Linked DNA regions of Homo sapiens: region 2 is linked to region 1. Evidence: fine-mapped expression QTL. Tissue or cell type: nasal epithelium. Region 1 holds a variant in brackets; the other region holds the start of a gene. All regions are shown on one strand. Distances are from middle to middle.

Region 1 (4,163 bases):
AATTATTTTAACCATTGTGGAAAGCAGTATGGCAATTCCTCAAAGAGCTAAAAGCAGAACTACCATTTGACCCAGCAATCTCATTATTGGGTATATACCCAGAGGAATACAAATCATTCTACCATAAAGAAACATGCATGAATGTTCACTGCAGCACTATTCACAACAGCAAAAACATGGAATCAACTGAAATACTCATCAATGGTAGACTGGATAAAGAAAATGTGGTACATATACACCATAGAATACTACATAGCCATAAAAAAGAACAAGATCATGTCTTTTGCGAGAACATGGATGGAGCTGAACGGCATTATCCTTAGCAAACTAATGCAGAACAGAAAACCAAATACTACTTGTTCTCACTTATAAGTGGGAGCTAAATGATGAGAACTTATGAACACAAAGAAGGTAACAACAGACACTGGGGTGGAGGGTGGGAGAAGGAAGAGAAGGAGAAAAGATAACTATTGGGTACTGGGCTTAATGCCTGGGTGATGAAATAATCTGTATAACAAACCCCAATGAAACAAGTTTACCTACGTAACAAACCTTCACATTTACCCAAATCTAAAAGTTTAATAAATAAGTACATTCTCAAAGTCAAGCACAAAGAGAAGATCCTAAAAGCATCAAGAGAAAAGAAGAAAACAAAATATAAAGGAGCTCTGATTTATCTGGCAATAGAATCCTCAGCAGAAAGCATATTGGCCAGGAGGGAGTGAAATAACATATTCAACGTGGTGCTGAAAGAAAAAGAAAAAGAAAAAGAAAAAGAAAAAAAAAAACCTGTCAACCAAGAATATTATTCTCAGCAAAGCTATCTTTGAAATACAAAGGAGATAAAGCCTTTACCAGGACAAGCAAACACTTGAAAGGGACTCATAAGAAATGCTAAAGGGAGTTCTTCACTATGAAAGAGAAGGACACCACATGCAAAAACAAAAAAACATTTGAAGGTATAAAACCCATTGGTAAAAGTGAATATACAGACAAACGCAGAATACTCTAATAATATAATTGTGGTGTGTAATCCAGTCATATCTCTAGTATGAATACTAAAAGACAAATCTACTTAAAACAGTAGGCTAGGCACAGTGGCTCATGCCTATAATCCCAGCACTTTGGGAGGCAGAGGCAGGCAGATTGCTTGAGCTCAGGAATTTGAGACCAGCCAGGGCAATATGGCAAAGCCCCATCTCTACCAAAAATACAAAAAGTTAGCTGAGTGTCGTAGCATGCACCTATGATCCCAGCTACTTGAGAGGCTGAGGTGGGAGCATCACAAGATCCTCAGTGTGTCGCTTCACCAGCCAGAAACCTCTGTGGCCAGTGGTACCTCTGCTTGAGTTTTGCTCACACCTGCTGGGCTTATTCTGCCCACTCGGCCTGGCAGGCTGCACTCAGCTTGTGCTACCAGCCCAGACCCCATGCCTGCTAAGGGCAAGCCAGGTGCAGAGCAGTGAGGGGTGTGTGAGTTAGCAAATGTGGGGTCTGGCTATGTGCACAGCCAGGCACACTGGCTGTTGCAGTGAGGCAGGCAGCTCCAGCCACCAGCACAGGCACTGGCTCCATGTGAGACTGTGGCTGGACCAGATGTACTGCAAGCAGCTTCCGCTGTGGGCACCAATGCCTGGACAAGGGGAATGCAGGGGCGCCTGAAAGCTCAGAGATGCCAGGAACCACAGAGGCCCAAAGAGGGTGTTAGAGTGTGTCAGAGCCCTGGCTCTGGGAGCCCTGAGGTTTGGGATCCCAGAAGAGTCACAACTCTTCTCTCCTTGTCACCCGCAGCGCAGCAAGTCGGGGGATGTGTTTCAGGTGGCACATGTTTCAGCCCATTTGTGTTACAGCTGTTTCAGTCCCACCACCCTGCTCTGGCCAGTGGCTCCTGGGCTGGCCTGGCCCCACAGCTGCTTCCCATTGCATGGCGCAGCCACCAGGTGCCAGTGGAGGGTGGGAGGCCTATGATGTGACAGCACCTCTGGCTCAGAAATCCTGAGGTCTGGGCCCCTAGAAAGGTCACCACTCTTCACTCAC[G/A]CAGTTTGTCTTTGTCACCACGCACAGCCCGGCGAGTCGGCCAGGAACGTGTTACAGCTCCTTTCACTCCCGCCATTCAGTGAGTCCCAAGTTCTTGTCCTGTGTCCAGGAAGAATGAGGTTACACAGACAACTGGAAGGTGAGCAAGGTGGGGAGAAGCCTTATTGAGTGACAGAACAACTCTCAGTAGAGAGGAGACCCTAAGTGGGCAGCTCCTATCCACAGTCAGGTAGTCCCAATGAGTTGATGAGTCCCTGAGTCTAGCTGAGCCTTGGGTTTTTACGGGCTCAGAAGGGAGGAAGTATGTGCTGACTGGTCCATGGACAGCCATGGGAAGGCCTGGAAAAAGCATCATCCAATTGGCCAAAAGGCATGAAGGAAGTTCTCACTCCAGGTTGCGGACTCCACCTGGCACTGGCAGCCTGGCCTCCAGGCTTCAGGCTGTCCTTGGCTTGAAGGTGAGGTTTCACTGAGGACCTGCCCCTTCTGCCTAGGAACCTGTCTACCTCTCACCACCATCAACATGCCATCTGCAGTGCCCAGGCTGTCTGCACTGCAGGACACTCACAGGCCCATGCCAAGCTGCCCTCAACCTCCCAGCCTCCCTTCTGCGCTCGTCGGCATCCAAAGTCTTGGGGGAACCAAGGCAGTAGGGGGCTGGCATGTCAGCACTGCCCCGAGTGTACACACACCTGACTGGGTCATGACAGCACCCGTGCTCAGCCACAACTTCACTCTACACCAGAGTGGGTACTGGGAGTGAAGAGAGGCCAGGCAGTGGGAGCAAGTACTTCCAAGCCTGAGGGGGCAGGGGGCTTTCCAGGCCCATAAGAGCGCAGGGATGCCCAAGTCCCAAGCTGTGGCTGGGCAGATGCAGCTGTGCCTGGGAGCACAGGGTCCCCACTGGGATCACCTGTTCCTAGCCCCTGACAGCTCCATGGAGCACGCAGCCCTGCCTGCACCTCCTCCACTGCTGGCTTCCTTACAGCAGCTGCTTCAGATTTGTTGCCACCTCTATCAGGAGGATAGCTTGAGCCTGGGAAGTGGAGGTTGCAGTGAACTGAGATTGCACCACTGCAATCCAACCTGGGTGACAGAGTGAGACCCTATCTCAAAAAAAAGAAAAAACAAAAACAAAAAGCTCCCCCTCAAAATAACTACAGCAACTTGTTAAGGTATAGATAATGTAAAAAGATGTAAACTGAGACAACAAAAAGTCATAATATGATGGAGTAAAAGTGTAGAATGTTTTAGTTTTTCCTTTGTTTGTTTCTATTATTTGTGATCAAGGCAAGATATCTATTTAAAGTAACCTGTTGTCCAGGCACAGGCTCATGCCTGTAATCTCCACACTTTCGGAGGCTAAAGCAGGAGAATTGCTTGAGGCCAGGAGTTCAAGACCAACCTGGCCGACACAGTAAAATCCCCATCTCTTTTAAAAACTCCTTAACTTAAAAAATAACTTGTTATATCTATAAAATGTTTTTTTGTAAATCTCATGGTAACTACAAAGCAAAAATAAAACAGGTACACTAAAAAAAAAGCAAAAAATTAAAACAACCAAAAAAGAAGAAAATCACTTGACCACAAAGGAAGACAGTAAAAAAGGAAGAAAACACAATGAGATATCATCTCACTCCAGTTAGAATGGCTATTACTCAAAAGACAAAAAAAAAAAAAGTACTGGTGAGGATATAGAGAAAGAGGAATCCTGGTACACTATAGGTGGGAATGAAAACTAGTACAACTACTATGGAAAACAGTATGGAGGTTCCTCAAAAAACTAAACCATATGATCCAGCAAACCCACTACAGAGTGTGTATGTATGTATGTATGTATGTATGTATGTGTGTGTGTGTGTATATATATACACACATATTATATATATAAACATATTGAAGAGGTATCTGTACTCTCTTGTTTATTGCAGCACTATTCACAACAGCCAAAATATGAATTCAACCTAGGTGTCCATCAATGGATGACTGGAAAAAGAAAATGTGGTATGTGTACACAAATGGAATATTATTCAGCCATAAAAAGGAATGAAATCCTGTCACATGCAGCTACATGGATGAAAATGGAGGTCATTACGTTAAATGAAATAAGCCAGGCCCTGAAAGAC
Region 2 (4,163 bases), 52 kb after region 1:
AAGCATCCTCAGACAAACTACCACTGATCACAAAAGCAAACACAGGAACAAAACTACTCCTCATTTGCACCTGTGACCAAGCCCTCCTTTTCAGAGGACCATTCTGTGAAATAAACGGGCCAATAGTTTGCAGCAGCCTTTTCCCCACTACAGGCTGTGACAGGACAAAGGTCTGGAACTTTAAAGTCACAGGAAGAGACCAAATGCTTTCTAGGGCCAAAACAGAAGCTACAGCTTTAATTACTGTCATAACACACTTAAAATAAGATTGTTGGGGGTAGGAGTCGGGGGGTAGGAGTCGGAGGGTAGGAGTTGATTTGTACATGGCATAGTAAGCCAAGCATAGAAAAGCAAAAACATAATTGCATCTTCTGGCACTTTCTAGGTTTCCCGAGTCTTTCAGCCAAATTGCCCTTTATAGGTCTGAAGCCCCTTGTAACATGCTCCATATCTTAAAATTTAATTATTTTTTTCACCATTTGGGGTGGGGGAGGGGAGCTGACAATAAACCATGGCCAATAACTGTTCCTTCTCAACTGAATCACACCAAAATCTGTAAGCATCTTCAAAAGTATATACTTCAAATTACTGCAATAAATGAACATGTAACCCTTTCGAAGTCTCTATTCCTTATTAAATGCAAAAGCTCTATTCTAAAAATATTGCAACTTGCTGTTTAATGTTCCTAAGAAAGAGCTGAACTTACCCCAAATAGGAAAGAGTTAAAATGGAATGTCATCTCAACCAAATCATTCTGTCTCAGGAGAGGTGACATGAAGGGGCAGAACCTTGCTTTGAAGCAAAAGCTGTAGGGAAAACTCCAAGTCAGCCACCTCTTCCCCAAAAGGCGGGGCAGGGGAGGCCAGAGTCTACTTGGCAATATTTAAAGTACAAAACTCATGCAGAGGCTTGAAACCAATATGGGTAATGCCTGCACAGAGTTTAATATATTATACATATATTTTTGAGACAGAGTCTCGCTCCGTCACCCAGGCTGGAGTGCAGTGGCGCGATCTCGGCTCACAGCAACCTCCGCCTCCCGAGTTCAAGCGATTCTGCTGCCTCACCCGCCCGAGTAGCTGGGATTACAGGCGCACACCACCATGCCCAGCTAATTTTTGTATTTTTAGTAGAGACGTGGTTTCATCATGTTGGCCAGGGTGGTCTCGAACTCCTGACCTCAGGGGATCCGCCCACCTCGGCCTCCCAAAGTGCTGAGATTACAGGCGTAAGCCACTGCGCCCTGCCTGTTTAATATCATTGATTGAAAAACAAAGTGGCAGTAAAAAAGGAAACTCTGATTGGTCTCTCTGTTACAGGTGACTTAGCCTTCTGGCATTTTTCACCTTGAAAAACTCCTATTAGGCCCTGTATAAAGTCAGAGGTCTCCTGAATCCGGAATGAGGTTAATAAACTGGAGAAAGAGATACTCACCTGTGCTATTCGCCTAACCGCCCCCTTCTGCTCCGAGTCCTCACTCCCCAAACAACCTTCGCGGTTGTTTGACACAAAACTAGCGCTTCAGCCCGGGTCGATTTTGGGGGATGGAGTAATTACCTACAGCTTAAATCGAGTCTGTGCCCGACGTGATTCTAAGCTTTACTCTTACTGCCTCATTTAACCCTCACAACCACCTTGTAAGGCAAGAATTACCAGCTTTAGTATACAAATAAAGAATCGGAGGCGCTGAGACATTAAAGGAGAAGCCAAAGAACACAAAGCCTGGGGAGCTGGGACTGGAGGCAGTTTTGTCCGATCCCCAAACCCTTACGCAGGGATTTTTAATTGGCGCGACCCTGTCCCAGATGGCTCCTCCCCGACAAGGGTCAGTCTGACCACTTTTAGGCCCAGGTGAGGTCAAGTCCGGGGTACTCCGGGAAGGGGCTCACGCCGACGCCTCTGAGAGCCCCGAGAGCCACTCACCTTACTCAGTCGCCGGCCTCCCACCAGCAGCCAGCCGGGCCAGGTTAGGCTGGGATCAGCTACGTCAGGCCCCGCCTCCGCGACCGTTACCACCGCCGGGGGAGGGCGGCCAATCGAGCCCGAGCGCGTCGAGGGCCAGCCCCTCTTTGGCCTGCGAATGCCCCCAAACGATTCTCTCCAGCCTCTCCGGGAAGCTGGGTCCGCCCCGCTCCCTCCGGTTGGCTCACTACGGGGGGCGGGGCTTACCGCAAACGAAGGCGTCGGTGCGATGTGCTGGTCTCGGGCACGCTGGCGCTTCCAACGCACTCCTTGGGTGCCCTGTCACTTACATGGAGGCTTATTTGCCCGGAAGACGTCAGAAATACTTGTGGCCGTGGGTGAAAGTGAAGCCTGGGTTACCTGGCCACCAGAGACTGCCCTCTCTCTCGCCCCCTACCCCGCCGCGACTACGAGCCCTTGCTGGGGTACGGGTCAGCATGTTCTCGATGTTCCAGACCTGAATGACCACTGTAGCAGCTGACATTTGGAGGACCCCAATAAATATTTGTTGACGACAGTTCATCTTCCCATTCAGCATTTTCCACATCTCGACGAAGCGTCAGGCCCTACCTGAGGCTGTAGCTGTCCACCATTGTCATTGTATCTTATAGCCACATGGTGTCGCTGTTGACAACTTGTCTTTTCAAATCAGTCAAATGATGTAGGTCTGTGTTACAGTCAAATGTTGCAACAGACTGTGTTGCAGTCAAATGATGCAGGTCCCACAGTAGCCAACAGGGATGTCCCATCTAGGGCATCAGCCAAGGGTCTCTCATCAGGAGATCCAAGGGCTCTTGGAGCTCAATACTTTCAGACCCTTCTTAGCCTTCTTCCAGGCAGCTGGGACTACACTTAGGTTTGATCTCTGTGTTTGCCCCATGCAAACATGTCCCTACCCCAACCTACGCCTACCCACTGTGCTTTCCATACCTGGATATTCACTCTAACGACGGTTAGCAGATTGCATTTTCAGTTCTCAAAATGCAAATAGTCTCAGTGCTTCCCTTTTCCAAGATAATAGGGTGCCCTTGCATACTCTTCTGAGAATGGCTGCCCTAATTGTAGAGGCCAAACATCTTTGAGTCAGTTATTATTATTTTGGATGCACGTGATATAGAATCTGAGTTAAACTGTCTTCCTAAAAAATAAAGAAGTTGCTTATCTCGCATAACAGAAAGCTCAGAGGCAAGGGAGACTTTGATTAATTCAGTGGCTAAGCAAGTTAACAAGGACCCAGTTGCTATTAGTCTCTGCTTTGTTGTAAAAAAAAAAAAGGGTAGACTTCAAATTCATACTAACGTGATTTTCCAGATGTCTACTTGGAGAAATCAGGACCACATACTTTCTTTTTCATCTAAAACCTTTCCTTCTGGTTTTTTGAGCCAATAAGTTCACACAGGCACACACTCTTCCTCTTTACCAGTAACTGCCTGGGAAATGTACAGACAGCTTAAGCCTGGGTTCCAGAAGTGAAAAGGAGCTATGACAATTGGAATTGGCAATGGTGTCAGTGCTCTTTGAGTCACATGAGTTGCAAGGTGGAGACATGGCTATTTGAATAAAACTGGAGACCTGTAAAGGAGAAGAGGAAAATGGATGCTAGATGGATGATCACCAGTATCTTTCACAGTCTTCAAAGCACAAGAAGGCTGATTCCTCTCTATTTTCTAACTGAATTTTTTATGTGGTGAATGGAGGGGAAGAGTTGCTATAGCACTGCCCTCCAAAACAATTCCCTTCTTATGGACCATGAAAGCCTTTCCAGCACCTCTCTTTGCTAGAGAAGGAAAACATCCCTGCACACAAACTTAGTCTTTCACTGAGAATCCTGCTACATTGGTCTCAAGAGTTTTCTATGGGCCTCATCTACCCAATAGAATTCTAATAATTCTAAACATTCATTTAACATTCATTCATTTATAAAAATGTGTTGGCCGGGCACAGTGGCTCACGCCTGTAATCCCAGCACTTTGGGAGGCCAAGGTAGGTGGATCACCTGAGGTCAGGAGTTCGACAACAGCCTAGCCAACATGGGGAAACCCCATCTCTACTAAAAATACAAAATTGGCCGGGTGTGGTGGCACATGCCTGTAATCCCAGCTACTTAGGAGGCTGAGGCAGGAGAATCGCTTGAACCCGGGAGGCGGAGGTTGCGGTGAGCCGAGATCTCACCATTGCACTCTAGCCTGGGCAACAAGAGC

The links. PIP is the estimated chance that this variant, and not a neighbour inherited with it, causes the effect.
Region 2: it holds the start of CEP70, and the variant in region 1 is fine-mapped to the expression of CEP70 in nasal epithelium (TOPMed, PIP 0.94).

The regions. Positions count from the first base shown.
Region 1 is chr3:138,540,654-138,544,816 of GRCh38, forward strand. All of the region lies in intron 6 of CEP70 (centrosomal protein 70), which reads right to left. Among named protein-coding and RNA genes, the nearest start is that of CEP70, 52 kb to the right of the region's middle. The variant G/A (reference allele first, on the strand shown) is at 2,038.
Region 2 is chr3:138,592,275-138,596,437 of GRCh38, forward strand. CEP70 (centrosomal protein 70) reads right to left here and starts at 1,986. Exons shown (of 18, transcript NM_024491.4): 1 at 1,924-1,986. RefSeq lists an enhancer at 2,191-2,250.